Linked DNA regions of Homo sapiens. The protein of the gene in region 2 interacts with the protein of the main gene of each other region in a biochemical or structural test. Each region holds a gene or a part of one and is shown on either strand. Other genes may lie near its edges. The genes, in order: RBMS1, POLA1 and HELB.

The links.
Region 1: the proteins of POLA1 (region 2) and RBMS1 form a complex in vitro, tested with the Homo sapiens proteins (one study listed by BioGRID).
Region 3: the proteins of POLA1 (region 2) and HELB form a complex in vitro, tested with the Homo sapiens proteins (one study listed by BioGRID).

The regions. Positions count from the first base shown.
Region 1 is NC_000002.12:160,278,976-160,289,104, forward strand, and holds part of RBMS1 (RNA-binding motif, single-stranded-interacting protein 1), read right to left. Parts: intron 8,110-10,129; coding exon 7,994-8,109; intron 6,070-7,993; coding exon 6,020-6,069; intron 5,894-6,019; coding exon 5,800-5,893; intron 3,330-5,799; coding exon of another isoform or gene 3,282-3,329; intron 2,390-3,281; coding exon 2,339-2,389; intron 1-2,338.
Region 2 is NC_000023.11:24,686,797-24,697,857, reverse strand, and holds the start of POLA1 (DNA polymerase alpha catalytic subunit), read right to left. Parts: upstream 3,941-11,061; 5' UTR 3,897-3,940; coding exon 3,854-3,896; intron 1-3,853. UniProt on the Homo sapiens protein: Catalytic subunit of the DNA polymerase alpha complex (also known as the alpha DNA polymerase-primase complex) which plays an essential role in the initiation of DNA synthesis.
Region 3 is NC_000012.12:66,297,307-66,307,340, reverse strand, and holds the start of HELB (DNA helicase B), read right to left. Parts: upstream 4,849-10,034; 5' UTR 4,738-4,848; coding exon 4,551-4,737; intron 2,611-4,550; coding exon 2,191-2,610; intron 997-2,190; coding exon 827-996; intron 1-826.

The DNA.
Region 1 (10,129 bases), on a different chromosome or scaffold from region 2:
GAGGAGCTATCATAGGAAAAACAAACTGATTATCACTGCCTGCCTAGGGTTACAAAACGCTTTCTTAAAAAAAAATCTGGAAAAAAAAGGCAGTTGATGTTTTCTCCAGTCACCAAACAATGTATTATATTTAATAAGATCAATATAGTATTTTGTTTAACAATGTTCTATCCAGATAATCGTCTGGTTCAAGATCAGGTTGTTAGGATCAAGAGCACATTTCTTCATTCACTCAGTGTTTCTCAGAACTTTAAGTTACATTTTGGTGCCTGGGAGGGAAGGCAATTCAGATATGATTAATAATCTGAGTCCAGATTCTTTTATTTAATTTGAAAAAATGTTAGTCATTAAAATCAAATTAAATATATTTAGGAAAATAGGAGGGAAAAAAAAAACAATTGCTTCTAACTCAGCCAGTCTAATACAACCACTGTTAGCAATGTCAGGGTACTACTGCCAGATCATAGCCTCTGTGTGTTTCTGTACAGGTTCAATCAGAGCACATCAACAACTTCATATCCTGGGATTTTGCTCTTAACTTTGCATTCTATTCTAACCATTTACCTAGCTTGTTGAAAAACTATCATTATCATCATTTTTTTAAATGGTTACATTGATTGTATAAACCAAAATTCAATGAACTCTTTATTTTTGGACTTTTGCAATCACCTCATTATCTGAGAATGCAAGTATTCTGACACGCTCTGTAACTACTAATGTATGTTTTGTTATCACTGTACCTGGCATCCCTTAAATACAACTGTTATTTATTGATAATTAGATAGACAATCTAGGACAGAGTTAGGTGTACAGGAACTTTAATTCTGATGTAAATCAGGCAGTTTAAAGCTGGGTGGGGAAAGGTAATGAATCCTCAGATAGCAACCTTCTGCTTACATTCCTAATGTCTCCTCAAAGATGTTAAGCTCAGATACGTGCAGTCTTTTTCTCAAATGTTGCCAAAAAGAAAAAAAGATATAGATGTGTGTCAGAGATAATGTTTGTCATTAATACATTCTGTTAGAAATTTTTTTTTTAACATGCATCATCAAAAAGCAAGTGGTAACACGGAAATGACTCAGAAGCCTAGAAGATGGTGGAGCAGTTTCCTGCTCCTTTTTCTCATTCATTGGCACCATCTGTAATAGGAAGTCCTCAAATTCAAAGCAAGCTGATTTCCAAGCATTCCAAAATAGGGTAGCATGGAGTATCAGGGACACAGATTGCTATGGGCATGTGTGGATCAGTGCATGTATATTATGTACACATGTACAGGTAAGTGTGGGTTTGAAGATGTGTCTATGTATGTGCACATGTATAGATCTATATGTATGTGTATATATCACACAAAACGTATACATATATCAGAGCGCGCCTCTCCTATTTCATCACCTAAACATGTTTTATCTGCTTCTTAAAGGTCATCTCAGCAATTTCTCATTCAGAACCTGTTATCCCTGGATTGCTATTTCATATACATGGTCTTACATCGCAGTATCCACTTTAAAAGGTATCCGAAGACAAATTGCTGTCTGAACATAAGGCCAAGAATACAGTTCTTTTTCTAAGCAACCAAATCTGTTTTTATTTTACACATATTGTGAACTGTATTGCTTACCAGGATTCCCATTTTGCATCAGTTACTAGAAAGCTTAGAGCCAAATTTGTGATTTTCTCATGTGAGCATGCAGGGTCATTGTGTTGGACATCCTTAGCCTTATTGTAACTTTGTTCTCCATATGTATTTTTAAATTTTCAAACCCTTCTTCCACAAACTAGATCTTATGTGTCTTTGAAAAACACATGAAATACACTATATAATAAGTATAACTCATTCAATTTAAAAAAATGTAATATATATGAATGCTCACGTCATTAAGAAATCACATTTGTTATTTACCAAATAATGTGCTACCACTTTAGTATTTATAATCTCCATAGAAAGGCCAAGTAACACTGATGAAAATCTTCATCTCGGTTTTGAACTTTATATCTGCATTAAACAGAATGTAAAAAATGAGAGCGGTTTTATCCCAAGTACTATTAAAAATGTAGCCTCTCATTTGAATGATCTCTAAAGAGCTGGTATGAATAAGAAAATGGTGCCCTGCCTCAAATATGATATATTTTAAGTTCTTATAGAAAATGTAACTTAATATCTTCTACCAAGTTGTTTTATAAGGATGAGAAGAAGTTTTATAATGAAATTGTACATTCTCATATTCCATGTTTAAAATTTCCCAAATCCTATACCACCCTTGGCAAATGGTTTTAACCTAGAGAGAATATACACATAACTTACTTGTAAAACACAAAGTCATTAAGATAAAAAACTTACAGGGTGCTGTAGAATATATGGTTGAGGTTGCATCCACGAAGGACTTTGCACCTAGAAAAGGGAGGATTTTGAAAGAAATATTGATTTTCATTGTAAAGCTTACCTATTTCTTTAGAACTCTTTTTAATCATGTTAAAAATCTACAGAAAGAAAACAAGGAAACAATACTATCAATGATTAAAAAGATTAAGGCAGTTAGAATTCTTGGCAAACTGGTCACTCTGAACAGGATGAAATGATTATTTAGAAACAATTTCTATTTGCCCACTCAAGAAGTAATTGTTGAGTATCAGGCAACAAAGAGAAAAAGGCGAAACAGACTGGGCCCCACCCTCAAGAAATTTACTATCTATGCAAGGGAGATAAACACAGCAACAACTCAAATAGTGAAAAGTGTTAACAATCAAGGTATGAACTAGGTGCTTTAGAATTACAGATGAATGACGATTAATTCCAGCACATCTTATTAGAAGCTAACCCTTAAAGTATGTGCTTATTTAATACAAAAAACCAAATTCAATTTCTCTTTCATATCTAGGACATTAATTTTAGAAATCTTGTATTGTGGTCAACAATTTCTACTTAGTGCAGAAAATAAAAATCTGAAATTCAGATTAAGGAAATTAAACTTCAGTAACTAGATTTTGACATCTACAGTCAAATGGGCATCCACACAGTAGACCCTCTGAATTGAGAAATAGATGTGAGAGTCAGGTTTTGTGGCAGGAAAGAAAGCATGTGTAGTCTGCCACTCAAGAGAAAAACATATCAGCCCATTTCTTGATGCCCAGAGCTTTCCAGAGTCTAAGTAATTTTATTAAGTTTCAGTTTCCAATTCTTAACAACAAAACCCTCCTGCATTTTATCCCCTATTGTTAACTTCAGAGGTTCAACAGAGAGGATATGGGGAAGAGTCATGGGGGAAGAATGTATTGCGATTTACCTTGATAGCAGAGCCCCGATACTTGTTTTCTCTGGTTTCCTTTGCCACCTAAGGCAGACCAAAGTTAAGTGCTTCTGCCTTGTTAACATTTCAGTTATCTGGACTGTAGCCTTTCCCCATTGGGGTTGGTGGTTTCTTGCAGCTGCCAATTTCTCAAATCCAATTGCATAAGCTTATGGTGGTTTAGTGGAGAAAGGCCCACTCCAACATGAGTGCAGGGCCCTCACTGGATATATGATGGGAAGGCAAACAACTCCCTACAGACCCTAATTTGGGCCAGATGCCCCCATTTTTTATATGCTTCAGTGGTCTTAATAATCTAATAGCTTATAGCATTACAGGATTAGGGAACTATGACATCTAATTTTCTTTCTTAAGCAGCAAATCAGCTGCTGTCAATTTCTATTCCTCAATTTTCTAATTATAAAATGGGAATAATAATGTTTTGTAAACTCTTTACTATTGGTTCTTAACCTCTTTAGGGTCATGGAGCCCTCTGAAAACCTAATTAGGGAAATAGAACATTTTTCCCCACTTAATTGCACACACACAAGCAACATTTTGCAAACAACTTAAGGAGTCACAGATCACTTAAAGCTCATCCACTGACCCTACTAGGTCCCTGAACTTATGTAGTTAAAAATCAGTCTTTGAGGCTATGGCACCGAGTGTCAGGCAATGCAATGAAATTCCATATGTATCTTAGAGAAATACAGAATGCCCAGGAGAGGAAATAAGGCCTCTGAAATAATATGTTATTTCTAGTTAGCTATATCAAATCTATTACTGACACAGATCTCCTAATTTTTATTGTACAAAATGGTTCTGTGGCCAAATGCACACTGGTTTTATATTATAAGAGGGAAAAAGAGGTGTTGGAGAAATGTGTTAATAGCTGTAATATCTATAGCAACATAAATTCAAATTAATACTTACAACCTTTCATTTGCCTGAGAATAACTTACACTTGCCCCTATTTTCAGTGACATATAAATGACAGAGGTTTCCAAGTTCAGACAGTTAAGAAAGACTACCTTTTCATAGCAGACACATGAATTGTTAATTAGGGAAGTGCACTAGAGCAGATCTCACTGAGTCTTATACAGTCAAAGAAAGGATAGGAATCCTAAATCCAAAACAACTAAAGAGGCATTAAATTAGTCAATACTACGCCCAGCAGAATGAAGCACCAGAATAAGTAACATAAGAACCCAGAGAGAAAAAAGAAAAGAAAACGAGTGACAACTCAGGGAAAGGAGGCTGTAAGAGCCTAGAAGCATAGGAGACTGTGAATGATAATGCCAATCCTCAGTTTTAGCGTATCTAATCACTTCTGTTATTCAAAACCATTTTTATGTTTTTAGGCAGAATTAGTTATATGACATTGCTTATGTTGGCCAATTCATTATTTAAACGTATAACTAATATACTCTTATTATCAGCCACCTAATCATGCATATTAATGATAATAATCATAGCTAACATTAACTGAGTGATAATGATATGTGAGGTCCTTGGCTGGGCTCTTTATACAGTCTCATTTGGTTTTCATAATTCTCTCAAGCCTATGAGATAGAAACTATTATTATCCCCATTTTAAAGATGAGGAAACTGAGGCTTATAGAAGTTAAAATAACACAACTATTAGATTACATATTGTAGTCCTCTAACCCCAGAAATTAGGACTACAACATCTAATTCAATTGTTTTAAAATCAAGAATACACAAAAATTTAGTCACACAGGATCCTGATGGTCAACAAAAGGGAACTCTGCTCCCACATGTCTGCAACTGAACTCCATTATAAGGTTCCTATCTGGGTCCAGGAAGTAATCCTGTTAGAGGTTTTCTGACACAGGAGGAGAAATGCATGTACACTACTGGGTTCATGGCGGACAGGAGCTACCTTTGCATTAAAATCAAATCAAATCTTGAAATACAAGACATTTCAAGAGTTTTTGTTGCTAAGTTGGGAATTTATTTTAAGGTAAAGCCTCCTCACTTAACCTAAACAGGAAGTCACCTTTTTGCTTTTATATTTTTACCTCAAATGTCAGCTGCATTGCTCACTTAATGCTACCTACTAGAGACACATCTTTATGTATTACCATGTTTATACTTGTTCTTTTATCAGTTCCTGCTGAAGAATAAACAAAAGCAAGGGTACACACCTATTCTGTATTATATCTAACGGCAATTATCTTAAGTTTCAATTTTTGGGACACATGGTGTCCAAAAGCAGGGCCCCTTGGTGAAGGAAGTGTTTGGGTTCATTCCAATCCAAAATGCTATGATTCCAAGGACTGACCACTGACAAACATTTTCCTTTGCTTTACATTCTCCTATACATAAATTGCTCTGCCAAATACAAAGCAGCTCATACTAAATTGGGTATCCAAGCTGCATAATATTTGACTCAAATTTCATAAACGCTCAAAATTTTAAGACACATAAAAATGTAGCAGAGATTCATGGTCCGCAAGTGGTTATACTGCTGACGAATCCTAAAGGTACAAACCTGGTAGGCAGATACAGGAGATGCAATATAGGGTGTAATAGAAGTTTGAGTGATCATTCGGTTTGTAGCAATACTGTATGGTGAAGGATAAAATCTAGAACAAACACAAAAGCCTTTATTAAGTAATCCTTTAAATAGAATAATTCATGGAACAAATGTCTGATATTTTCCACCTTCACATTTTCCCTCAAGCCATTATGGATTTATTTTAACGACATACCCGTTCTGTATAGCAGCTGTAGTTGGGTCGTAAGTAAGTGTCATTCCAGCCTATGGGAAAGAGAAAGAAATATAAACATTCATCTAGAAAGGCATGATTTAAAAATTCTATTTTTAGCCAGGTGTGGTGGTGTGCACCTGTAGTCCCAGCTGCTGGGGAGGCTGAGGTGGGAAGATCCTTTTGAAGCCCAGGAGTTCGAGGCTGTAGTTAGCTATGATTACATCACTGCACTCCAGCCTGGGCAACAGAAGGAGACCCCTGTCTCTTAAAAAAAAAGGGGAGGGAGGGGAATTTGTACTTAGAGTCTAGTAGCATTTGATAAAATTGGGAGTTTCTGTTAGTCAAAATGACTATAAATATGAAAATTAATCTCTGGACCTGCACTGTCCCATGTGATAGTCATAAGCCACATGCAGCTATTTAAAACTACATAAAAAATCAATCTCTCTAGCATACTAGCTACGTTTCAAGTGCTCAGAGAGCCACCTGTGGCTGGTGGCTGTTATTGGACAGTGCAGATTCTAGAACATTTTCCCTAGACATTCTTGGATCAATATGTTATTGTTTTTAAAATAATAATTCATGGAAAGTCAATACAGGGAAATGGACGTCCAACATTTTATTACGAAATTGAGAGTTTTAATTAAAAAAAAAACTATTCAAAAGAGAGGTGAAAAAAACCCCAACTCAGTGATAAATGTACTATTTATATATAAATATTTAGATTACTATTTAGGATAACTTCTAAATATTATAAATATAAACCCCTCTAAGAAACCATGCTAGCCTGGGCAACATAGTTAGATCCTATCTCTATAAAAATTTTAAAAAATTAGGCCGAGCACGATGGTTCACGCCTGTAATCCCAGCACTTTGGGAGGCTGAGGTGGGTGGATCATGAGGCCAGGAGATTGAGACCATCCCGACTAACACGGTGAAACCCCATCTCTAGTAAAAATACAAAAAATTAGCCGCGCATGGTGGTGGGTGCCTGTAGTCCCAGCTACTTGGGAGGCTGAGGCAGGAGAATGGCATGAACCCAGGAGGCAGAGCTTGCAGTGAGCGGAGATCGTGCCACTGCCCTCCAGCCTGAGCGACAGAGCAAGACTCCATCTCAAAAATAAAAAATAAATAAAAAAATAAAAATTTTTAAAAATTAGCCAGGAGTGGTGGCATGTCCCTGTCGTCTCAGCTACATAGGAGGCTGAGGTGGGAGGACTGCTTGAGCACAGGAGTTCAAGGTTGTGGTAGGCTATAACCACACCACTGGACTCCAGCCTGGGCAACAGAGACCATGTTTCTTCCTTTCTTTTTTTTTTTTTTTTATTTTGTTTTTTTTTTTTGAGATGGAGTCTCGCTCTGTTGCCCAGGCTGGAGTGCAGTGGCATGATCTTGGAACACTGCAGCCTCTGCCTCCCGGGCTGCAGCGATTCTCCTGCCTCAGCCTCCCAGGTAGCTGGGATTACAGGCATGGACCACCACGCAGGGCTAATTTTTGTATTTTTAGTAGAGACGGGGTTTCGCCATGTTGGCCAGGCTGATCTCTAACTCCTGATCTCAGGTGATCTGCCTGCCTTGGCCTCCCAAAGTGCTAGGATTATAGGTGTGAGCCACCGCGCCTAGCCTACAGAAACCCTGTTTCTGAAAAAAACCAAAAACAAACCCAAATCACTTGTGTTTTTCTTATGGCAATTTAGAATGCTCTTTTACTTCATGTGTAGCTAGCTGGTAAACACAGCTGCTTCCACCACCTATCGGTCCATCTGGAGAATCACTCTGTTATCACCATATATAATGAAAAGAATTTTAATTTGGCATCACTTGAATTATAATGTACCGAAAGGAAGATTTAATCCTGGCACCTATTTCAGAAGTGTGCAGCCAAGTCAAGATGCCTTTTTGTGTTACTTTTCATGTGGGCATTCAAGATCACACCCCCTCCCCCACCCCGCAAAGTTTCAAGAAAGGACTTACAAGTCTCACCTCTCCTTCTCTATGCCATGGTCTTCCATTAGGGATGTATTTGTTTGGGTTCTGTCTCTTTTTCTGTCCTCCATCAGCAAACTTACACAATAAAGGTTCTGTGGGGGCTAAGTAAACAGAGAAAAATAAAATGAAACCACAATGATACGTGTATGTGGATGACAAAATGTATTACAAAAATAGGAATAGTGTTCACGCTATTAGAAAATTCATACAACACTTTAAGGCAAAAGCAGTTTACTCAGACCTTTGTAAAACTGTCCACGATGAAAAACATAGTGCAGAAAAACATACTAGTTATTATTTCTGAACATTTAAATAACTATTCTGAGGAAGCAAAGGAATCTTTCGATTCACTTTCACACTTAAGAGTAGACACATTTCTTTTGGTTTTGGGCCCTCTCCAATTCCACCTCTGGACCGTCACCAAAATAATCTTCAAATTCAATAGGATTGTGCCATCCTCCCCTCCCCCAACTTAAAATGGTCCCTTAGCGTCCCATTATAATTCCTAAGAGGGACCCTTCACTTCTCCCAGTAGAAAACAAGCCACCTCTACACTGCTCGCACATATATTTTTATTCACAATTTGTAACAATTGGTGAGTATGTTTACTTGCTTGGTGTCTGTTTCCCCTTCTAGGCTATACGCCCCATGGGGGCAGTAACATTGTCTGTTTTGTCTATCACTGTATCCCCAGTGCCTAAGTGTCTGGACTTTGTAGTTGCTTATTACATCTTGGTTGCATCAGTGAATGAATAGAAATAGGTCTCATATGTTTATTTTTGGGATACGTCAGTGAAGATGGCTGTTGTGAGAAAGCTAAAAATACTTGTCCACCCTATTTAAAGGTTTTTCTGTGCCTTTAATCATACAACTGGGTATTGCTTTACTATATATCTATATACCACTATATATAGATCTGTATATTATTACTATATTACTTATAATATATATTACTATATACCTATACATTTATATAAATTCTTCTTACAGAATCCATGAGGCCAAAACAGAAAAGCAGAAGATGTAGAGAATATTTTCAAAGATATATACTCATTAGAGTTAAAAAAAAAAAAAAGTCTACAGACAGCACAATAGGGCACCAGTAACTTTTCCTTTTCTTTGCTTTTCTGCAATGGAAATAGCAGTGTATTCCAGAAAGTTGTGCATTTTTCTGTGTTTCTAGTTAATGTAATAAAGGCAATCACACCTTCCTGTCTGGTTCCCACATTCTGTCCTTTGTCTACTGTAGAACCATGATTACTACTTTCAAGTTCTGTTTCAAAGTTAAATAACCACGAAGAGAAAAATATTACTTGTGGAAAATTTACTCCTTTCTCCTGTGCCTCTTATTATCCTAATTCATCTCTTATTTTATTTCATGATTACCCACCCACTAATGACAGGGTGGAAGCAGTAGTGTCTTTCAACACTTCTCTGCCAAAAAACAAAACAAAAGAAAACAAAAAGCCCAACTGTAACTCCTTCTGGGTGAGCTGTCTGGGCTGCTGCCTGGCACTCCTTTCTTCTTTCCCTGGTGTGAACCACTCTGGAGGGATGGGTTGGAATGCCAACTCACTTCTGAATGACAACTGGACTATGGGTATGACGAGTCAGGAACAAAAATGTTAGGTGTCTGGTGAGACTATCAGCAAGCCTTGGCCCAGATCTAGAGAGGTTTATCCACTGACATTTGAGGTTGTAAGATGTTGACTCCACATAATCTCGTAGAGCAAGAGAGAAGATAATAAATTTGGTGGTGCTGGTACATAGTGGGTCTTCTCTAAAACGAGGTGCTTTTATCTAGAGGGTTTATGAAAACTAGGTCCTAGACTGAAATTTAACCTTTTTTTTGTTTTTTTTAAAGAAGTTACTTGGCTCAGCAAGTGATCCCAACTGGCCGTTTTTCTCTATTAGCATAATTTCTTTCAGAGACAGTAAATGATCAGGTTGGACTCATTCTAGAAGTTCAGTGCAGGCCACCTAAACAGGCAGGTGTGAATAAAAGCAGGTAAGCAGCCAGACCCTGATGCCTGCCTAAGCTCAACATGTGCTGAATGACCAAGTGTCCCCATCTGTGGATAAGGTGCTTCTAACACATTTTCCTTCATCTAGACTCCAGCC
Region 2 (11,061 bases):
TAGGCTCAGCATGATTGCCATCTATGTCTGTGAAATCTAGTATTTTACTGTGTTTGGTGCTAATTAATTTATAAAAAGGAGCAGGCAAAGAAAAGAAGTATGGATAAGAGGCAGCCTAAAACTCCAACCCCACTAGAATGTTCATAACAACATTAAGCTGCTTGACTAAGTGTTTGACTGAAATAGAAGATACAATTTAAAGAACATGTACCAAATGCTGGCAATAAACTGCTGGAAACTATAGCCTAAAGGTAAGGCATAATTAGAGATCTTATTTTTTTCTAGCTTTCTAGAAATGGAATCTCTCTTTATAATATCACACTCTATTGTTTGACTTTCACATTTGACTTTTAAATCCATTTTCAGAAAGACATTAAGTAAAAATTAAGGAATAAAGGTACTTAATGATGACAGCCACAAAAACTTGGATGTCACTCAAATGATTTCAAAAATCGTGAACAGGCCTACATGAAAAGGCTTTGAAGATTACTGAACATGACCCCTGAAAGTGAAAAGCGATTCCCCTCAAGACTCCCTTGATGCCTGACATCTGTAGGTCTTCAAATGCACTTACTCCATAGGCAACAATGTTCCACTACACAGGCAACAATGTTCCACTACACAGGCAACGTCCCACTACACAGGCAACAATGTTCCACTACACAGGGTTTAGGGTACAATCACAAATAAGACAGAGCTGCCTGTCCAAAAGAGGCCCCCAGTCAAGTAAAGCAAAGTACCTGAAATTACCATCACAATATAAACATGGTGCCATAGAAAAGGTAAGAACTCAGTACTGAGGAAATGTACAGAGGAGAGAGCTGTTAATTTTGCCTGGAAAATCAAGGAAGGCTTCACAGGAGAGGTTTCCAATACAGGCCTAGAAAAAGGAGTCAAATTTCACAGAGAACAAAGTAAAAAGTGGCACAAGCAAAAGAAGAGGCATGAGCCAAATTACAAAGGGATGAAAATGCATAGTGTATTCAGAAACTGAGAGAACTCAGTGTGCAAGGTAAATTCGACAAGGGAGTGTAGAGTGAGTAGGAGAACCAGGTTAGGGAGAAGCAGCACATTCCAGCTCTGCCATTTACTGGGTGACATGAGAACACCGGTTAACCAGTTAAGCAGCAGACAGGTGTCTTGTTATTTAAAGCAGCCTAGCATCTGAAACTGTTTGTGAAATCCGGCCCCCATCCCTTATAAGTCTTGATGAGACGCAGAGCCTATGCCCCATTACAGAAGCTGAAAAGGTTGATGCTCTTTCCCAGACACCCTTGCAGCCTAGAGCATGGGCATATAAAATAGGCGCTACCGATTAGGAACACCTGCTCAGACATTAAATCAGAAGCTAGTGTCACAAGGAAGGGGGCATGGGTTTTAAAAGATTCTACAAGTAGCAACAGCTGCAGAAGGATTACAAAACCGGCAACAATGTCAGCAATGTCCTAAGGTATGAGCTATAGCATCAAGTACTTGCTCGTGGTTGGCAATGACCTCCTCACTGGCCCATTTTTGTGGCACAATTTCACTCACTGTTCCTGGCTAAACAGCTCCCAGACTGGCTTACTAGTCCTCCTGGAGTTTCTGTGAACACAATATTCTTCTAACAAATTCTAACCAATCTGGTAGAGTTGGTTCCTGCAGCTTACAGATAGGGGCTCTGACTGATGCAGAGCCTCAGGGTCCACATCTGTGAAATGGGGATAATCATGTCTGCTTCAAAATCTGTTAAGGATTACATGAAGATGCCTATCTTACTTTGCACTTAGCAATATAGGAGCGGCTCATGTAACGCTTCCGCGTGTGAAGTCAAACACACATCCACATACCCCACACACACCATACCTAAGAGTACCAAGGTCTAGCTTTAGAAGGCAAAAACAAAGCAAAGCCGTTTTCTGCATATGATTAGATGTTTACCATCTGTACTTCATGAAGACAAACCATGTCCAGCCTACCCACCATCATAATGCCAGAGCCTGGCAGAAGGCTTATACCTAGTAGGTATATAATAAATATTTGCTGAATGAACCAATGAATGAACCACTGTACCTGCTTTTTTGATCATTAAACTTTCCCTGGCCGGGCGCAGTGGCTCATGCCTGTAATCTCATCACTTTGGGAGGAAGAGACAGGTGGATCACCTGACATCAGGAGTTCAAGACCAGCCTGGCCAACATGGTGAAACCCTGTCTCTACTGAAAATACAAAAAATTAGCCGGTGTGGTGGTGGGCACCTGTAATCCCAGCAACTCGGGAGGCTGAGGCAGAACTGCTTGAACCCAGGAGGCAGAGGTTGCAGCCAGCTGAGATCACGTCACTGCACTCCAGTCTGGGCAACAAGAGGGAAGCTTTGTCTCAAAAATAAATAAATAAATAAAAATTCCCTGATCTTTTTTCATATATAGTAACAGCTAGTTACAGACCTTTCAACTTTTCACTGCCATTATCAAGGTGCCCTGCCTGCTAATACTGAAGAAAAAAAAAAGCCTACATTTTGTTTTTTGGAGTATGTCTCCAATGCTTCACGTAGGTAACTTAGCAAAAAAAGAATAAGCATGAAAAAAATCCAGCTACAAAGGTTTAAATATTTGTTTCAAAATTACCATCTGGAGTATCTCTATCCTCCCCAAAAGCAGACAGACACTAGCTTACAGCAGTCTTTCAGGTAACAATCCTTCAGTCTGCTCTAAAGGAAAAATTCCAGTCACAAGTCCCCAGCAACTACTTAATGAACACCATGACCTAAGAGGAGTCTCAAGATTGCACAGTATCCTCCAAAGTGATTTCCTGATGTTCATAGATGACGTAGTTTTTAGGATGAAGAAAGGGCTTAGTGGCAAATCACTGATAGAGGCCTGCAAAGACTGTTCGTTCACATACTTACACCCAACATCCTATCTGTAATCCAGGCAGGTCGACTCTCCAAAATAGTCTTAAAAAACGAACGGCTAGAACAAATTGAAATCTGTGACTCACAACTAGGTGAATGCAAAGGAAGCTGATTAGGAAGCGAGTTCTCATTAATGGTGATGTATCTGAATGACAGGAGAGGTGACGCTTGAGCTAACAAAGTGAAGCATCTGATTTTAAGTTAGAAGTTAACTGAAGTCACGCTTTAGTTGAACACTTAAAAAATCAGACAAATCTATTTGCATTTTTGTATTCTATTTTTGGAAATAAAAGACACCCCTGACAAACGGAGTGATATACAGGGGATCCGAAATGCCCTAAATTGATGCCATTTTTTTGAAACTTCACCAGGAATGACTAGATTGTGAACAGGATTTCTACGCAGCACTTGAAGAACTTTCCAAAGAATCTGAAAGAAAAATTGTTAATGCATAAAGTAGAAACCCATTACCTAAAAATACAAAACGCGTTATTCCCCGATGACAGCACTTAGAGCTTTCTTTCCTGCTTAGTTACAATGTATAAAATTTTCCTGGAAGTTCCTACAAAAAGGGACACAGATCTGTTCTGTTCAAGCCTTCAAGTGGATACTTAGGGAGATCGCAGTGAAATACTTTCGGCCCCACGGGGCCAGTCTCAATAAAGTTATACCCAGCACGTGGGTGCAACTCACCAAAAGAAATAGAAACGCAATCGACTGTGGAGACTCTCAGTGGCAGAGGTGAGACAGCCTCCCAAACAAAAATCCCTCCAGGCTCTGGTCCTCCAAGAGCAAACCGCGCCTAAAGGAAGCCCGGTCCGACGCCAGAAGGGCCCCCGCCGGGGACGACCAAGGTCTGCGCCCAAACAAACCCGGGTGTGCGCCTCCCTCAGAACCCCCACCACCGGCAATCATGCCACTGTCCCAACCCGGAGCCCCGCGCGCGGAATTGTCCCTCACCACTCGCCCCTATCTCACAGTCGTCGCCGTGCACAGGTGCCATGGTCCCGAATCTCCCGATTCCGCGCCAACCAGCCCAAAACTGGCGCGGGGGCCGAGACAGGCGCCAGCCTGAAAGCCAATCAGCGGCTCGGGAGGCTGCGGACTTCCGGCCGGAAGGCCACTGACGTGCCGCGCCGCGCCGCGCTCCGCCCCCGGCCTTCCCGCGGACGCGCGTTTGGCGCCCTGTGATGACCCCTTAGGGAAAAGCTAGAGCTGAGGGGAAGCCGGAGGAGAGCAGGAGAAAGAAGCGGTCGGGCGCTGGAAAGGAGCCGCCTGGAGACTGCGCAAGCGCACGCATGCTGATGGGAAAAGATTTGGGCGCGTGGGAGAAAGGGCGCTCTGGTTCTCAGAGCCCATTTTCCCGGAAAGGAGGCGCGGGCGGGCAGGAGAGTGGGCGTGGTTGGATCGTTTTCCCCAGAGCCGGGAAAGCGACTGCCTCCTGCTGCGCGCCCTGAATTTTGCCTGATAGTTTGCTTCTCAGCAGTCTGGATACAGTGGCTGTGTGATTAACAACTTAAAGATATATGCTCCGTCTTAACCAAATAACCAGAAGTAGCATTACCAATAAATGGCCATCTGATCTCATATGCCTCCTGATGTAATGCGTATGAAAAAGGAAAAACTTCGCCTATATGGTCTTCTTGCAAAAAATGTCTAACCTGAATCTAACCATGAAGAAACAATCAGATGTATTCAAAATGTAGGACAATCTACAAAACACCTGACGTGAACTCCAAAATTTCAATGTTATGAAAAACAAAAAGGGTATTCAATTTTTGTGTATGATACAATGGCTGTAATGTGTACATCTCATGTTATCTCTTTCCAAAAAGGTATAACATTTTTATTAAATAATGCCTGCCACACATTTGTATTTTTTCCTACATTATTGCCCACATGCTTATTGATCCCTTCTTCATGTGACAACAATTTTGTAATATTTTCTCCAAAGAGGATATAAAGATAATTCAATCTGTCTTCTAGCATGGTTGATCAATACTTGTTTCTTAATTTCTGATTGTTTAGAAAATGTCTTTCAGCTTCATAATCATTTAATATCATGTTATGTGATCCATATGTTGTGATACATAACATGTAGTAATTTACACTTAGACATAACTTCCTATTTAAAGTACTACGACAGATTTATTCCTACACTTCCCTTTTAAAAACTGATGGAAGTTTTATAGTTTTATTATCAAGCTTTTTCCAACCAGGAGAGAACCATGTTGGCTAGTCATTAATAAGAACCAAATCCTTACCTTAACAATTTCACAGCTGATTACTTCCCACATGCCCGGGTATAACTCTAGGCATTTCAAACCTCTTTTCTCTTTCACTACTGCTGTGGTCTGAATGTTTCTCTCCACATAAAATGTATGCGTTGAAACCTAATCACCAGTGTGGTGGTGTTAGGAGGTAGGGCCTCTGGGAGGTGATTAGGTCATCAGCAGGAACCCTCCCTCATGAATAGGATTAGTGCCCTCGGAAAAGAGGCTCCAGAGAGCTGCCTTGCCCCTTCTTCCATGTGAGAACAGAGCAATAAGGCACCATCTATGGACCAAAAAGTGGGCCTACCCCAAACACTGAATCTGCCGGCACCTTGATCTTGGAATTCCCAGCCTACAGCACTGTGAAAAATAAATTCCTGTTGTTTATTAGCCACCCAGTTTGTGGTATTTTGTTATAGCAGCCTGAACAGACTGAGACAATGACCCACATACTTTGTGGGAAAAGACCTGTAGGACACTTTCTCTTTTTGAGATGGAGTCTCGCTCTGTCATCCAGGCTGGAATGCAGTGGCACCATCTCGGCTCACTGCAACCTCCACCTCCCAGGTTCAAGCGACTCTACTGCCTCAGCCTCCCGAGTAGCTGGGATTACAGGCGCCCGCCACCACACCTGGCTAATTTTTGTATTTTTAGTAGAGATGGGGTTTCACCATGTTGTCCAGGCTGGTCTTGAACTCCTGACCTCAGGTGATCCACTCATCTCAGCCTCCCAAAGTGCTGGGATTACAGGTGTGAGCCACCATGCCAGGCCAGACACTTTCATACCATGATATGTCTTCTGGCCCTACACTTTCAGTTCAAAACTCCTGGTAAGTCATCACACTGGGGTAGAAATATTCCTGGAAGCTATTCCTACACCAAGAAGTCTATGAATAACAGCCCGGCGCTGTGGCTCACGCCAGTAATCCCAGCACTTTGGCAGGCCGAAGCTGACAGATCATGAGGTCAGGAGTTCAAGACCAACCTGACCAATATGATGAAACCCCATCTCTACCAAAAATACAAAAATTAGCCGGGTGTGGTGACAGGCGCCTGTAGTCCCAGCTACTTGGGAGGCTGAGGCAGAAGAATAGCTTGAACCCGGGAGGCAGAGGTTGCAGTGAGCCGAGATTGTGCCAGTGCACTCCAGCCTGGGTGACAGAGTGAGACTCTGTCTCAAAAAAAAAAAAAAGTCTATCAATAACTTAAGTATATATGGCTTAAGTATATATGTGGGTTAAGTGCCTTCGACCCACATAAATAGAAGAAATAAGCCCAAACTAAATGCAATATCAACTCCATTTCCCCATAGTGGAATCCCAAAATGCCTATGCCTATTTCACTGCTACTATGCAAGAAGCGAAGTGTATCAGAGGGACAGTTGGAGGTTCTCAAGAGCTGATTGTTAAATATTCCAGTATTTTGTAATCTCCATGTTAAACTGTTGGTAGCTTGAAATCAGTCATGGTGGGAATATTTACACCCTGGAAATTGGCAAGTGGTACAAATCAGAGCTTTTTATTTTTTTAAGGTTTACCAGCAAACCACCAAGTGGAAAGTAGTCATATCTGATTGCAGCTAAAATATCTTACTTTTGTAGATCTACCATTTGATCCAGCAATCCCACTCCTGGGTATCTACCCAGAGGAAAAGAAGTCATTATACATGATAGATACTTGCACGCGCATGTTTACAGCAGCACAATTTATAATTGCAAATATATGGAACCAGCCCAAATGCCCATTAATCAACAAGTAGGTTAAAAAAAGTGAGATATGTGTATATATACATATGTGTGTGTGTATATATCTCACACACACACACACACACACACACACACACACACACACCATGGAATACTACTCAGCAGTAAAAAGGAATGAAATAAAGACATTCGCAGCAACCTGGATGGAATTGGAGACCATTATTCTAAGTGAAGTAACTCAGGAATGGAAAGCCAAACATTGTGTGTTACTCGTAAGTGGGAACTAAGCTACAAGTATCCGAAGGCATACGAATGATACAATGGACTCATTGTATCATAAGAATGATACAATGGGGACTCTGGGAAAGGTGAGAAGGAGGTGAGGGATAAAAGACTACACATTGGGTACAGTGTACACTGCTCAGGTGATAGGTGCAACAAAATCTCAGAAATCACCACTAAAGAACTCATTCACATAAACAATTAATTAAGTAATAATATTAATAAAAAGGATTGGGGTAGATTAGATGGGAATGAAGGAGGGAGCCAGGGTTGTTTTAGAATAAATGGAGCAAATAAATATGACAAATACTATCTTAAAATAAACAAATAAATAAAATGAAATATCTTACTTTTGCAAATGTTTACAAAAACATAAAACCATTGCTAGAACATCTCCCAGAGCCTTGCAAGTGGCCAATATGCAAATGAGAGGCCCTGGAGATTAAGTTTCAGCAGCTTTACTGTAAACCTACCTCTGTTATCTAATCATGCAAAAAAATCATAATTTGTCTTAAACTTCCTCTCTCCTGTCCAGGACCAGTTTTGCAAGTTTAAAGGTTTTTTTTTAACTTATAAACAAAGTAAAGCAAACTGAGACTGAGATACTATGTTCCACCATTTTCCCCCTTTTTATCTGTACATTTCTCTATATATAAATGTTATCCATTGCTGGTAAGCTTACAGTGTTGAGGCACAACTCATTTATTACAGGTGGCAGTGTAAGTTGGCACAATCTTTTGGAAAATAATATTGCAATATGTGACAAGTACCGTAAACATACTTGTATCTTTCAACCCTTTATTTCCACAGGTAAAAGTTTAATAAGAAATAATAGAAACAAAAAATGCAAAGACGTTAATGGCTGCTGTTTTCCATTAGCAAAAAGTTGGGACCTAAAAGTCCACATCATAACAAAGGTTTAATGTTGTGACATCAAAAAGATAAAATGATTAGAAAGACTCAAAATATGAAAAATGTTTATGATATTTCAGAAAGTGAAAACCACAGAGGGCAAAGTGATACATACCCACACTTATTTGCAATGATATATCAAACAGTTATTTACCTGAAAGCAATATGCAAAATGGAGTATATTTTGCCAGGATGATAGAATTATAGACTCTTTTTGTTTATAATTTGTCCTCTTTAATATTATATTGGAAGGATTAAAGACTCAGGTAGAGTCAGACTTAGGGTTTGATTCTTAGACTTCTACTTTTATGTGAATCACCACACTGTCTTCCACAATGGTGGAACTAATTTACAGCCATAAAAAAGAAACCAGGTGCAGTGGCTCACGCCTGTATTCCAAACACTTTGGGAGGCCACTCTGGGTGGGCAGATCACCTGAGGTCAGGAGTTCGAGATCAGCCTGGCCAACATGGCAAAACCCCATCTCTACTAAAAATACAAAAATTAGCCAGGCATGGTGGCGGGCACCTATAATCCTAGCTACTCAGGAGGCTGAACCAGGAGAGTCACTTCAACCCAGGAGGCAGAGGTTGCAGTGAGCCGAGATCGCACCACTGCACTCCAGCCTGGGCGACAGAGCACGACTCTGTCTCAAAAAAAAAAAAAAAAAAAAGAATGAGATCACGTCTGCAGCAACATGGATGGAGTTGGAAGCCATTATCCTAAGCGAACTAACATAGGAACAGAAAACCAAATACCACATGTTCTCACTTATAAGTGGGAGGTAAACATTGAGTACAAATGGACACAAAGAAGGGAACAACAGTTACTGGCACCAACTGAGGGTGGGGTGTGGTAGAGGGTGAGGATCAAAAACTACCTATGAAGTACTATGCTTATTACCTGGATGATGAAATAATCTGTACACCAAGCCCCCGTGACATGCTACTTACCCATATAACAAATCTGCACATGTACCTGAACCTAAAAGTTAAAAAAAAAAAAAAAAAGTATTCTGGTAGATCTGAAAGGGGACTCTTTTTTGCCTTTCTGCTTTTTCTCTTTTCTCTTTCTTCCTGCAACACAGATGTGATGGTTTAAGCTCCAGCAGCCGTCTTGTATCACGAGATAACTGTGGAAATGAAAGTCCCCACAGTGAGATGGTGGAACAGAATAAGAGCCTGGGTCCCTAACATCCATTAAGTCACCATACCATCCCTGAGCTGTCTACCCCCAGACTTCTACATGAGAGAAAAGTAAACATCTGTCATATTTAAAGCCACTGTTTTTTATTTTTTCTATTGTATTCAGTAGACCTAATTCTATAAATTATACTTTATTTATGAAGAAATGGAAACTCAAAAAGTAAGTAGCAGATGGAGATCAAGCCTCTTATTTGTCTAACTCCAAAGCAGGAACTTTTTTTTTCCATTGTCTGTCTCTGATGAATGAGTATTGTATCTTTTTTTTTTTTTTTTTTGAGACAGAGTCTTGCTCTGTTGCCCAGGCTGGAGTGCAGTGGTGCGATTTCGGCTCACTGCAGCCTCTGCCTCCCAGGTTCAAGCAATTCTCCTGTCTTAGCCTCCCAAGTAGGTGGGATTACAGGCGTGCACCACCATGCCTGGCTAATTTTTTTTGTATTTTTAGTAGAGATGGGGTTTCACCATGGTGGCGAGGCTGGTCTCGAACTCCTGACCTCAGATGATCCACCCGCCTCAGCCTCCCAAAGTGCTGGGATTACAGGCGTGAGCCACCACGCCTGACCTAAATGAGTATCTTCTCTCAATAGCAGTAACAGTTAAACACATGAAAACGTTGACGAAAATCATTCATTTAACAAATGTTTATTGAGTGCCTACTATTTTCTGGCACTATTCAAGGCCCTAGGGATAAGACAGTGAGCAAAAACAACTTCCCTTGCAATGATTTTCTACTCGTCAAGCAATCTTGCTTCTGGTAAACTAGATTTTTTTTCCCCTAAACTGGGGGAAAACCAGCCAACTGGATTATATTCTGGCACATCTGCCAGGTGTATTTCTCATGGCAAAGCAGTAAAGTAGCACTCTGGTTTCAATATCCATGTGCGTTTGTTAGCATGAATCTGGCCTTTGAGCCTGATTGTCTGTGGGTATGAAGATCGGCTTTGTGGCCATCCAAAGATTCTGAGCCCAACGAGGTAGTGTTGTTTATATGTAGCTGTGGAGAGAGGATTGTCTGCTAGCTGAAAAGAGGCCAGCAGTGAGAGGGCCTGGATATGCTCTCAGCATCCCACAAAGATTCTGGGTAATAAGAGAAGACACGCAACTCTCCTGAAACTCAAGAGACCATCTCTGGGTGTCCTAAGGAAATCCAGTCAATACCCACAACACTGAAGACAGGACCTTGGACCCTGGGACCGAGGAGGGTAACCCAAAGAAGCTTTCCCTAGAACCAGCCAGCACTTGGCACTCCCAGACCCCAATCTCACAGACACACCTTCCCTACTCAGGGGACCTCCTTATGAGGATTGACCTTCAAAAATACATCTCTGGGCTGTGCGTGGCAGCTCACATCTGTAATCCCAGCAATTTGAGAAGCCGAGGCCGGTGGATCACCTGAAGTCAGGAGTTTGAGACTAGCCTGGCCAACCTGGTGAAACCCTGTCTCTACTAAAAATACAAAAATTAGCTGAGCGTGGTGGCACACACCCCAGCTACTGGGGAGGCTGAGGCAGGAAAATTGCTTGAACCCAGGAGGTGGAGGTTGCAGTGAGCCGAGATCGCACCACTGTACTCCAGCCTGGGCGACAGAGCAAGACTCCATCTCAAAAATAATAAAAATAATAATAATACAAAAGATCCCACCCCTGTCATTAAGCATCTATCATCAATAGAAATCACAGTCTGACAGCATCTCTGTGGTTTGGATTTAGGGAATCAATTTTTGTTGTTTTGGAGACAACGCTCACTCCATCACCCAGACTGGACTGCAGTGATGCAATCATAGCGCACTACAGC
Region 3 (10,034 bases), on a different chromosome or scaffold from region 2:
ATGTAATTGCTCTTCCACTCTTCTCCACTGAATAAATATATATAATAATCTCATGTTCCAGAATCTCATCTTTAAAAGCATACTGAATTCATAGACATTTTATGTAAGGGAAAAATTCCTTATTCCAGTATTTCTCAAACTCAGCATCTGCAAACATTCTTGAGGTTCCAAGAATTTTCTCAGAGTTTCTCAACTGTATTTTTCTTTGCAAAACCACCTTATAAGCAAGAACTACCAAGATTAAGTACCACATTTGGTTTCCAATACCACTGGAGCCTCAGTGTGCCCCTTTACTACTCATAGTCTCTAATAATAAGAACAGAAGCGGATTCATTTGTAAATGATGTTAGTGTACAAAATAAAAATCAAATGACACCATGATATACCACATGAATAATGAAAATTGTCAATAGTTCAAACTGGAAGTGGGAAATTGAGTTGCACAGCAGAATGGACTTGCCAAATTTGTAAGAGCTGTTGACCTCAATAAGATTCAAGCTGCAAATGACAATTTAGTTACAGGACATTTGTCACATTAAATTACATAACTAAATTAATACCCATAATTTGAATGTCATCAATTTTTTTTCATTTACAAATTTATGCAACTTTACAAGTTGCATAACAACTTATAAAATGTTCTTATGCTATAGCTTCTTATGCTATAGCCATAAGAAGTTTATGTACAGTTGCAACATTTGAATAAAAATAAATCAATACTGGGGTCCACACAAATTTTTTTCCTTTGAAAGAGAAAGGAAAATTGCCAAATCTGAAACCATGCCTTACACAAGATTACTATATGCTGAGCAAATGTTTTACTTACTTTACTAAATCCAAGTTTCCACGGATGTGTACCTAAAATCTCTTCTATCTCTTTCAACATCTCTTTAGAACCTGACCCTATGATCCATTTAAAGTGTCGAGGCAGAAGAACTGGAAGGAATTCCATTATCTTCGGAAACTGCAAAGCTGTCATTACATTTCTAAATGGAACTACAAGATATCAGAAAGGAACAAAGTAAAACATAAATGAACCCAAAGAATGACTGATTTGAAGTACTTTCTCATTTTGCACAACCGATTCAAGAAACCCAAGTCAAAAACAGATTAGTACACTTGCTTTAACCAGTAAGAAAATTTTGATCATATTATGACAATTGCTTTTGTACTGAGATGGTTTTCATTGTGTTTAACACCAAAATTTATGTTCTTTAAATGCTTAAATAATGATTTCTTAGCCTTTTGTTTCCTACTGCCTGCACTATAACAGAATAAAAATTCTGACTCAATTATATAAAGATAAATTTAAAGCTAAGGATATAAAATAATTTACATAGTAACCTTCATAATCATTTTCTATAATCATAATCTTTTGTCATTGAAATCATTCATTGATGTACCATCAAATTTATTTGATACAATTAGGAAATGAAATATTCCATATATATGAATATCCAGATAACAAATCATATTAAAAATTACTTGAAACCATTTTGGACTGAAGTATTTCCTAAATGTATTATTCACATCCTTGTCGTTCTTCTCTACCTCTTTAAACAGAATCATTTACAACTGATTTTTTTTTTTTTTTAACTGAGACGGTGTCTCACTCTCACCTAGGCTGGAGTACAGTGGTGCAATCATGGCTCACTGCAGCCTCCATTTCCTAGGCTCAAGTGATCCTCCTGCCTCATCCTCCCAAGTAGCTGGGACTACAGGTATATATCACCACACCTGGCTAATTTTTAAAAAATTTTTTGTAGAGACAAGGTCTCACTACATTGCTCAGGCTAGTCTCGATCTCCTGCGCTCAAGTGATCCTCCTGCCTCAGTCTCCCAAAGTGGGATTACAGACGTGAGCAGCTACCACACCTGGCCAGCAACTGAATTTTTTTTTATTAATGATTCAAGGTAATCGCTGTGAATACAAAAGTTAGAAAGAGAGATTAAAATCACAGTTTTAGAGGTGGAAAGGAACTGGAAGATTTTAAAGATCAGCTCATATAATCCCTTCATGCTACAGATGAGAAACCTGAAATGTCAATGGCATACTCCAAAAGCAACATAAACACATTTTTCACCAAATGGATTTTTAAAAAGAATACTATGCTAGTGGTAACATTTTAAACACTGTAGTTATTAAGTATGTCAATTACACTGAAAGTTGATGATAAAAATCACACTTACTTGTGTTTTCCAGAGGAAGACTCATCTCATTGTCTAGGAACAACTCTTCCTGACCATTCTGTGTAGGCTGCTTTTGATCTTTCCTTCCAGTTTCCTTGTGGAAAGTTCTTAGTGTTTCCCTAAGATTTTCAAAGTTTAGGTTTTTGTAGTTTGATACCTCCTTTACCCATGTTAAAAATTTATTAACATCATCACTGGAGACCTCACACTCTTTAAGAAAGAGAGCACAGATATGTTTTTGATTTGGTGGTGACATATCAGACTGCAAAAAGTAAGACGGAAATCCTTGAACTTGATATTGATAGCTCCTTGATCCCACCACAGGCTTTACTTGTACCTTCACTCTCCACCAAGCACCTGTTATCGGAAAACGTCCAAACACTTTACATGTCTCTTGTGTGTTTTCATCACAAATAGAAACTAAAAAAAAACAAACAAAAACCCACAAAAGTTAACTCTGGAGATTATTTAGAAACCGTTTCCTCAAAGTTTCATCAAACTTACCACTATCTTTAATCTCCCTACAGCACTCTCTAAAGATGTCTGGTAGGGTGCCTGTAACACTGCATTCTGCCTACCTCTTTTTCTGTCTCCCTCCACTACACTGTAAATACTAAAACAGGACACTGTTTCGTTTGTCTTTGTATTCCAAAACGCAAGCACAGTACACAGCAGGTGTCTGCTGTTCCTCTTCTAAAATCAGTCCCCTCTCTGCTACTCTTGACTTCAGCCAATACTGGCCTTCATGCAGTTTCTTTAAAATGCCATGGCCCTTCACTCAAGTTATTCCATCTGCCTTAACTGATCTCCCCTTTACTGTTTACTACATTTACTACAGACCTCAGCTTAACTATCACTTACTTAGAAAAGTCTTCCCTGAATCTCATGTATAAAACCTCTCAAAGCACTATTTAGCATTCCTTCTAAGCATTTAGTAACATTATAGTTACTTCTGTGATTAAAGAATGTTTGTTTAATACACTAGAGGGTAAGCTTCATTAAGACTGCAACCTTGTTATTTTATTTCTCTAGGTTTTCCCAGCACCAAACATGCTAGCCAGTTGATGATACTTTAGAATGACGACTAAGCCCTCCACAAATACTTGAAACTTTTCTGCCTAAATCTGCGCTGTCCACCCACGTGGCTATTTAAATTAAAATGTAATAAAACTTAAAATTTCTCTCCTCAGTTACACTAGCTGGATTTCAAGTTCTAAACAGCTACATATGGCTAGTGGCTATTATACCAGACAGTGCAGATATAAAACACTGCCATGATCATGGAAAGTTCTACTGAACAGCACCGGTCGGCACATTAAAATATTTTAAGTCTCAGTCACAAAGTATACATAACAGGTATAACTTATAGCACAGGAAACTACCTCATAGCACAGGAAACTACTTATACAAGGTTTACCCGAACCACAAGGTTACTAACACCAATTAACAATCATCTGTGCACTGAGGTGTTCCTTGTGTTTCGTTTTTCTTTTTCTTTTCTTTCCTTTTCGTTTTTTGAGATGGAGTTTCATTCTTGTTGCCCAGGCCGGAGTGCAATGGTGTGATCTCAGCTCACTGCAACCCCCACCTCCTGGGTTCAAGCAATTCTCCTGCCTCGGCCTCCCAAGTAGCTAGGATTACAGGTGTGCGACATCACGCCCGGCTAATTTTGTAGTTTTGTTGTTGTTGTTGTTGTTTTACTAGAGACAGGTTTCACCATGTTGGTCAGGCTGGTCTCGAACTCCTGACCTCAAGTGATCCACCTGCCTCGGCCTCCCAAAGTGCGTGAGCCACCGCGCCCGGACTGTTTTGTTTTTCCAAGAAGCTGAGGAAGAACCACGTATTTGACTCCAGGCAATATAGGATAATAATTACAAGTTCTCATTCTATAGAACTTGAGGATAAGTGGTCAGAAGGAAAAATAAAAGTTCCGATTCTGGGTGGAAATAGAGACTCAACATCCACTGTTTCCTTAAGCGTAAAACTACCTTACATTAAAGGTACATTAAATTAAAGGACGACCATTAAAATGAGAATAATTTTAAAAAAAAAAAAAAAAAAAAAGGGCAACCCGCTCGGGTCCCCTTCCACACTGTAGAAGCTTTGTTCTTTCGCTCTTTGCAATAAATCTTGCTGCTGCTCAAAAAAAGAAAAAAAAAAAAAAACCACATAGTATGTGTCCAGTTAAAGTCACTGCTATTATTATAGTCATAATTTTACCCTTGGTAGGATGAAGCAGCTAGACCACTGATAAGCTAAATCTGTTAGCACGACTGGGTGCCTTGCTCAGGGCAAAGCCAGAATGGGAAGCGCTACTTTGGACCCTCCAACCCCATCCCCCGGGCAGACGCCTTCCTCACCGCGGAGGCACCCGGGGAGGCTGCCAGCCTTTACGCCCCCACTGCAGAGCTCCTCGGCGTCGATGAACACGGACTCTTCATCCTCCTCCACGTCGTCGTTTAGGTAGTCGTCGTCCTCCTCCACCAGATCCCTGGGTGGGAGCAGAGGTCCCTGAAGTTGGCGCAGGTACGGACTCGACCTGGCCATGCTTCTCCTGAACTCAACCCAAACAACTCGGGAAAACCCTGGCTAACTGCATGGTCATGATCAGCCAATCAGTTCTACGACTGTAAGGCCATCAACTTCCGGGAACGGCCTGGCGGCCGCCAGCGTACATAAAACCTGAAAGGCAGCGAAGCTCCGCCCCAAGTTTCCAGGAATTGCCGAGGGGAGGGCATGTGGAAGGGGCGGGGCAAGGCGGGTTAGGGGCGGGGAAGGGAGAGCGAGGGGCTGGGAGATGGGCGGGGCTTCCGCTCCTTTTGGAGCCTGGTGCTGGGCGGTGATTATCAGGAAGGTGCTGGGACGAAATCAGCGCTGGGGAGTGACAGGCGTGGCACCTGCAGAACCGCCAGTGCACGGCATCTCCTGCGGAGAGAGAACGGGGAGAAAGTCCACTTCTGCTGAGCTTGAAGAACCTGGAAAAGCAACCCCCACCCCAACCTTCCCAAAACGAAAGTATAGCAGATGCCCTTCTGGAATCGGATCTAGGGCAGGGACCTAGAATTCTGTCTTTTTAATGTACATTCCGGGCTGTCCATTTTGATGCTCAGCTAGGTTTGGACACCACTGGATTAGATAACATTCAAAGTTATTTTTATCCTTTCCTCTGTGAGTACACCCTGGTCTCCCAAACTTATTTAAGCTGGGCTGCTACCTGCTGACAGTGGGGCAAAAGTGTCTCTTTGCAGCCCAGAGTATAGACAGGAATAGGAGAAGGGAAATAGAAGAGAAAGGAACGTGGTTTTAAAAACTATTATGGGGCTATGATTCTCTTACTTGATGAGGATGGTACTTGAAAGTCTTGGTACTATTTAAGAAATACCATAAATATATTACTACATTACTGTATTGATACTGTTTATTTTGGGATTATTCCTGAAATAACTAAACACACACTATTTACTAAATCCAAAAGCACCTGATGCTATATTTAAATATATATAAACGACAACTAGCACCAAATATTTAAGAAAAATGTATAGGAGAAAATATAAAAATTGATTTCTTTTCCTTTGGGTACCAATTGAAAAATGCCCACTTTTGTTGCTTTTAAAAGAAATACTGTTGCAGCTGACAAAACACCAGTGTTTCCAAGGATTGGCTATATGAGGTTGAATTCCTTTGACATTCACATGGCTACTGTTTCCACCACAACATTGAATCTCCTCTGACAAATGTCACACTTACTGTCCTCTTCGTTTCAAAAACCAGTGGATACTTTTCAGCCTTTGTTTTACCTGACCTCTCAGCAGTATTTGATACTGATAAGTATTTTCTTCTTGTAGCATTCTGCTGCCGGGGCTTTTGCAGCTTGCCTTCTCAGATTTTTCTCCTTTCTGGCTATTTACAGTCTTGGACCCCTCTGCTTGCCTGTAAGTACTGTTATTCCCCAAGGCTCCATCCCAAGCATCTTCTTGCTCTATAATCCTTTCCTCAATCATCCTTCACCTACATGCTAATGACTCAGCCTAATCTGATCTCCAAACCATACAAACAACTGCCTAAACACTGTCAGTCACTACTGGATGCCCCTTGGCTACTTAAGACTCAGCATATCTAAACTGCAACTTATCATTGGCTTCCCAAATCTGGGTCACTTATGAGTATATACATGGGATATTCTTGTTACCAACATGATGACTTGGGCACAAGAATCAACTCTAGATCTCTAGATGTTAAACTTTTTTTTCTTTCTCTCTTTTTTTTTGGGGGGTGGGGGGACAAGGTCTCATTGTGTTGCTCAAGCTGGTCTTGAACTCCTAAAGTCAAGTGATCCTCCTGCCTCAGTCTACCAAGGTGCTAGGATTACAGATGTGAGCCACTACACAGCACAGGTGTTCAACTCCTCCTCCCTTTTTTTTTTTTTTTTTTTTGGTACAGGTCTATAGTGGCACCATCTCAGCTCACTGAGGCCTTGACCTCCCAGCAGGCTCAAGTGATCGTCCCATATCAGCCTCTCAAGTAGCTGGGACCACAGGCTCACACCACTAAGCCCGGCTAATTTTTTGCAATTTTTTGTAGAAACAGGGTTTCGCCATGGTGTCCAGACTGGTGTCGAACTCCTGAACTCAAGTAATCTGCCGGCCTCGGCCTCCCAAAGTGCTGGGATTACAGGCGTGAGCCATTGCACCTGGTCACTATATGTTCAGCTTCTATTCATATAGTTCAATTGCATTTTATTGGATAGTGTAGATAGGAATTTAGGATGATAAGAATCTTACTTCTTTACCTATTGTTTTCTCATTCTTTTAAAAAAAAAGTTAACAATTCTGGCTTTCTGGATACCATCTTTACCATACATAGTAAGCAGTGGTACTCAAATCTGGCTGTGCATCAAAATCACTTGGGATGTGTTCTAAAATTGAGATACCTGGATCTACCCTGAAGCTACACTTCCCAAAACAAAAAACAACATAGACATAGGTTATCTACTGTGTGATTTTTGTAATAGCAAATTATTGGAAATAGCAGAGATGTTGAACAGCAAGAGACTAATGAAATAAACTGTAGTACATCCACACAATGGAGTATTCTTCAGCTATTTTTTTTATAAAAAGAAAGAAAGATTGCCACAAATTGGTAGGGAGTAGTTTCCAAGATACTGTTTTAAATTAGAGAAAGCAAGATGTAAAACAATGCATATCATTTTATTTGTATGTGTCAGTGTTACGAAAAAAAAAAAAATCACATGAAAGATAAACCACAAGTTAATGAAAATAGCCAGGAATGGTGGCTCGTGCCTCTAATTCCAGCACTTTGAGAGGCCAGGGTAGGAGGATTGCTTGAGCCCAGGAGTTTCAGACCAGGTTGGGCAAAATAGCAAGACCTTGTCTCAAAAAAATAAATAAATTAGCCAGACACAGTGGCGTGTGCCTGTAGTCCAGCTACCCTGGAGGCTGATGTGAGAGGATTGCATGAGCCCAGGAGGTTGAGGCTGCAGTGAGCCAGAAGAAGGTGAAGGAGGAGAAGGAGGAGGAGGAGGGGGAGGTGGAGGGGGAAGAAATTGATGAAAATAGTTACCCACAGAGGAGATGGAAACATGATAGGACAGAAAGGGGATACGGACAAGAGCTCTGAGATTAATTTATTATGTAGTTTGACTTCTGAATCATGTAAATGTTGTACACATTCAAAAAATAAAAGAAACAAAAGCAAAACAGAAAATTGAACACAAACAGAAACAAACAAATCTATCAAGTGAATTGCATAACCACTAAGAGAAAATAATCATTTCAAGTTATGTTTCAATACTTTGGGTAAATATTTTAAGTTATTCTAACTGTACACCCCTGGTAGGTTATACTCTGCAGACAAAAGATCTAAAAAATGATCTTAAACTTCACTCATTATGGTTAATGTTTGTTGTAATATTGTTAGTGTAATTTTGAAATTATATATTGTAGGATAAAGAAAATAAGTAAATGTATTCATATTTTATTAAAAGTTTTAAATGTACATGGAAAGAAATACAAATGTAAAATAAAATAAGTTGAAAAAAGCTCCTACAACATTAAACTGGAATTGAAAATATCAATATGGGCTTGTGATTTCTTAAAATGTATTATCTAGTTCTGTGTGCCAAAAGAACCTGAAAGCAATGTAACCCCAGTAACTCTGATCACACCCACCATCTCAATTTTCTGTTTGTTTGTTTGTTAGACAGGGTTGTGCTAGAATTCAGTCTCACAATCATAGCTCACTGTGACCTTGAACTCCTGGCCTCAAGTGATCTTTCTGCCTCCCCCTGCCCAAAGTGCTGAGATTACAGGCCACTGCACCCAGCCTAATCTTGGTTTTTTAATCTGGGTGACTTTTTGTTTTCAAAAGCAAGGACCAGCCGGGTGTGGTGGCTCACGCGTGTAATCCCAGCACTTTGGGAGGCCGAGGTGGGCAGATGATTTGAGATCAGGAGTTCGAAACCAGTCTGGCTAACATGGAAACCCTGTCTCTACTAGAAAGATAAAAATTAGCCGGGCAAGGTGGTGCGTGCCTGTAATTCCAGCTACTTGGGAGGCTAAGGCAGGACAATTGCTTGAACTGGGGATGTGGAGGTTGCAGTGAGGCAAGATGGTGTCACTGCAATGAAAAAAAAAAAAGGAAAATTATAGTATCAAAAGGAATAGTGACTGCACTTGATTATAACATGCTGAGTAAATAAAAATTCACATGTTAATTGTGATAGTTAAAAAAAGAGAGAGAGAAATGCCAGTTAATAAGAATTTTTAAGAAGAAATTATAAAAATAGAAACCAGCATTTTCCAACCCCCTAAAGTAACGACTGATTCAAGCAAGTATCACCAAAGGATATGAACATCACTGGGGAACTGATAGTCTCCTGGCAGTAATAGATTACGAATTGCAAAGGGAAAAGTGTACCTATACAGTGAAGATACTTGTCACTCACCCTTTAATCAAGTTATCAAACACAGTGTCAATAATGGGACACAATTGATGTGTATTTCATGCTATGACGCAATAAGATATACATAAAATTAGCTATTAAGTATTCTTACCAAAAGTATTTAACCTGATTTTAATCAAGGCTCTAGACCAGTACTGTTCAATAGAGATATATATCATATGACCACATATGTAATTTAAAAGTTTCTAGTGGCCACATTGAAAAAAGAAATAGGTGACATTTTAATGATGCATTTTATTTAATCCAAAATATCCAAAATAGTATTTCAACATGGTAATCAATATAAAAATTATTAACAAAATATTTTACATTCTTTTTTTTTTATCCTAAGTCTTTAAAATCTGGTCTGTATTTTACCCTTACTGCACACTTCGATTTGAACTAGTCATATTTCAAGGACTCGAAATCCATGTGTCTAGTGACTACCATATTAGACAGCACAGTTGTAGACCGAATTTCCAATTTGCCCCAAATCCAAGGAAGTGAGGTACCAACTGAATGATACCATAAGGAAACAGAAAGATCTAGAACAGAGGTGACAAAACTTCATTTTGCAAAGGGACAGATAGTAAATATTTCAGGCTTTGCATGCTATATATGGTCTCCATCACATAATACTCCTCCACCTCCTCCTTCCTTCTCTTCTCCCTCTTCTTTTTTTATAACCCTTTAAATATGTAAAGACTATTCTTAGCTCTACGGCTGTACAAAAACAGGCTGTAGTTTTCCCACACCGGATCTAGAATATGGGACATTCTACAAGACAACTGACCTGGATATTCCAAAACATCAATGTCATAGAGAAAAAATTGGGGATTCCAGGATTGCTGGTGGCCAGTCAGTGAAGTTGAAGTTGAAGGTA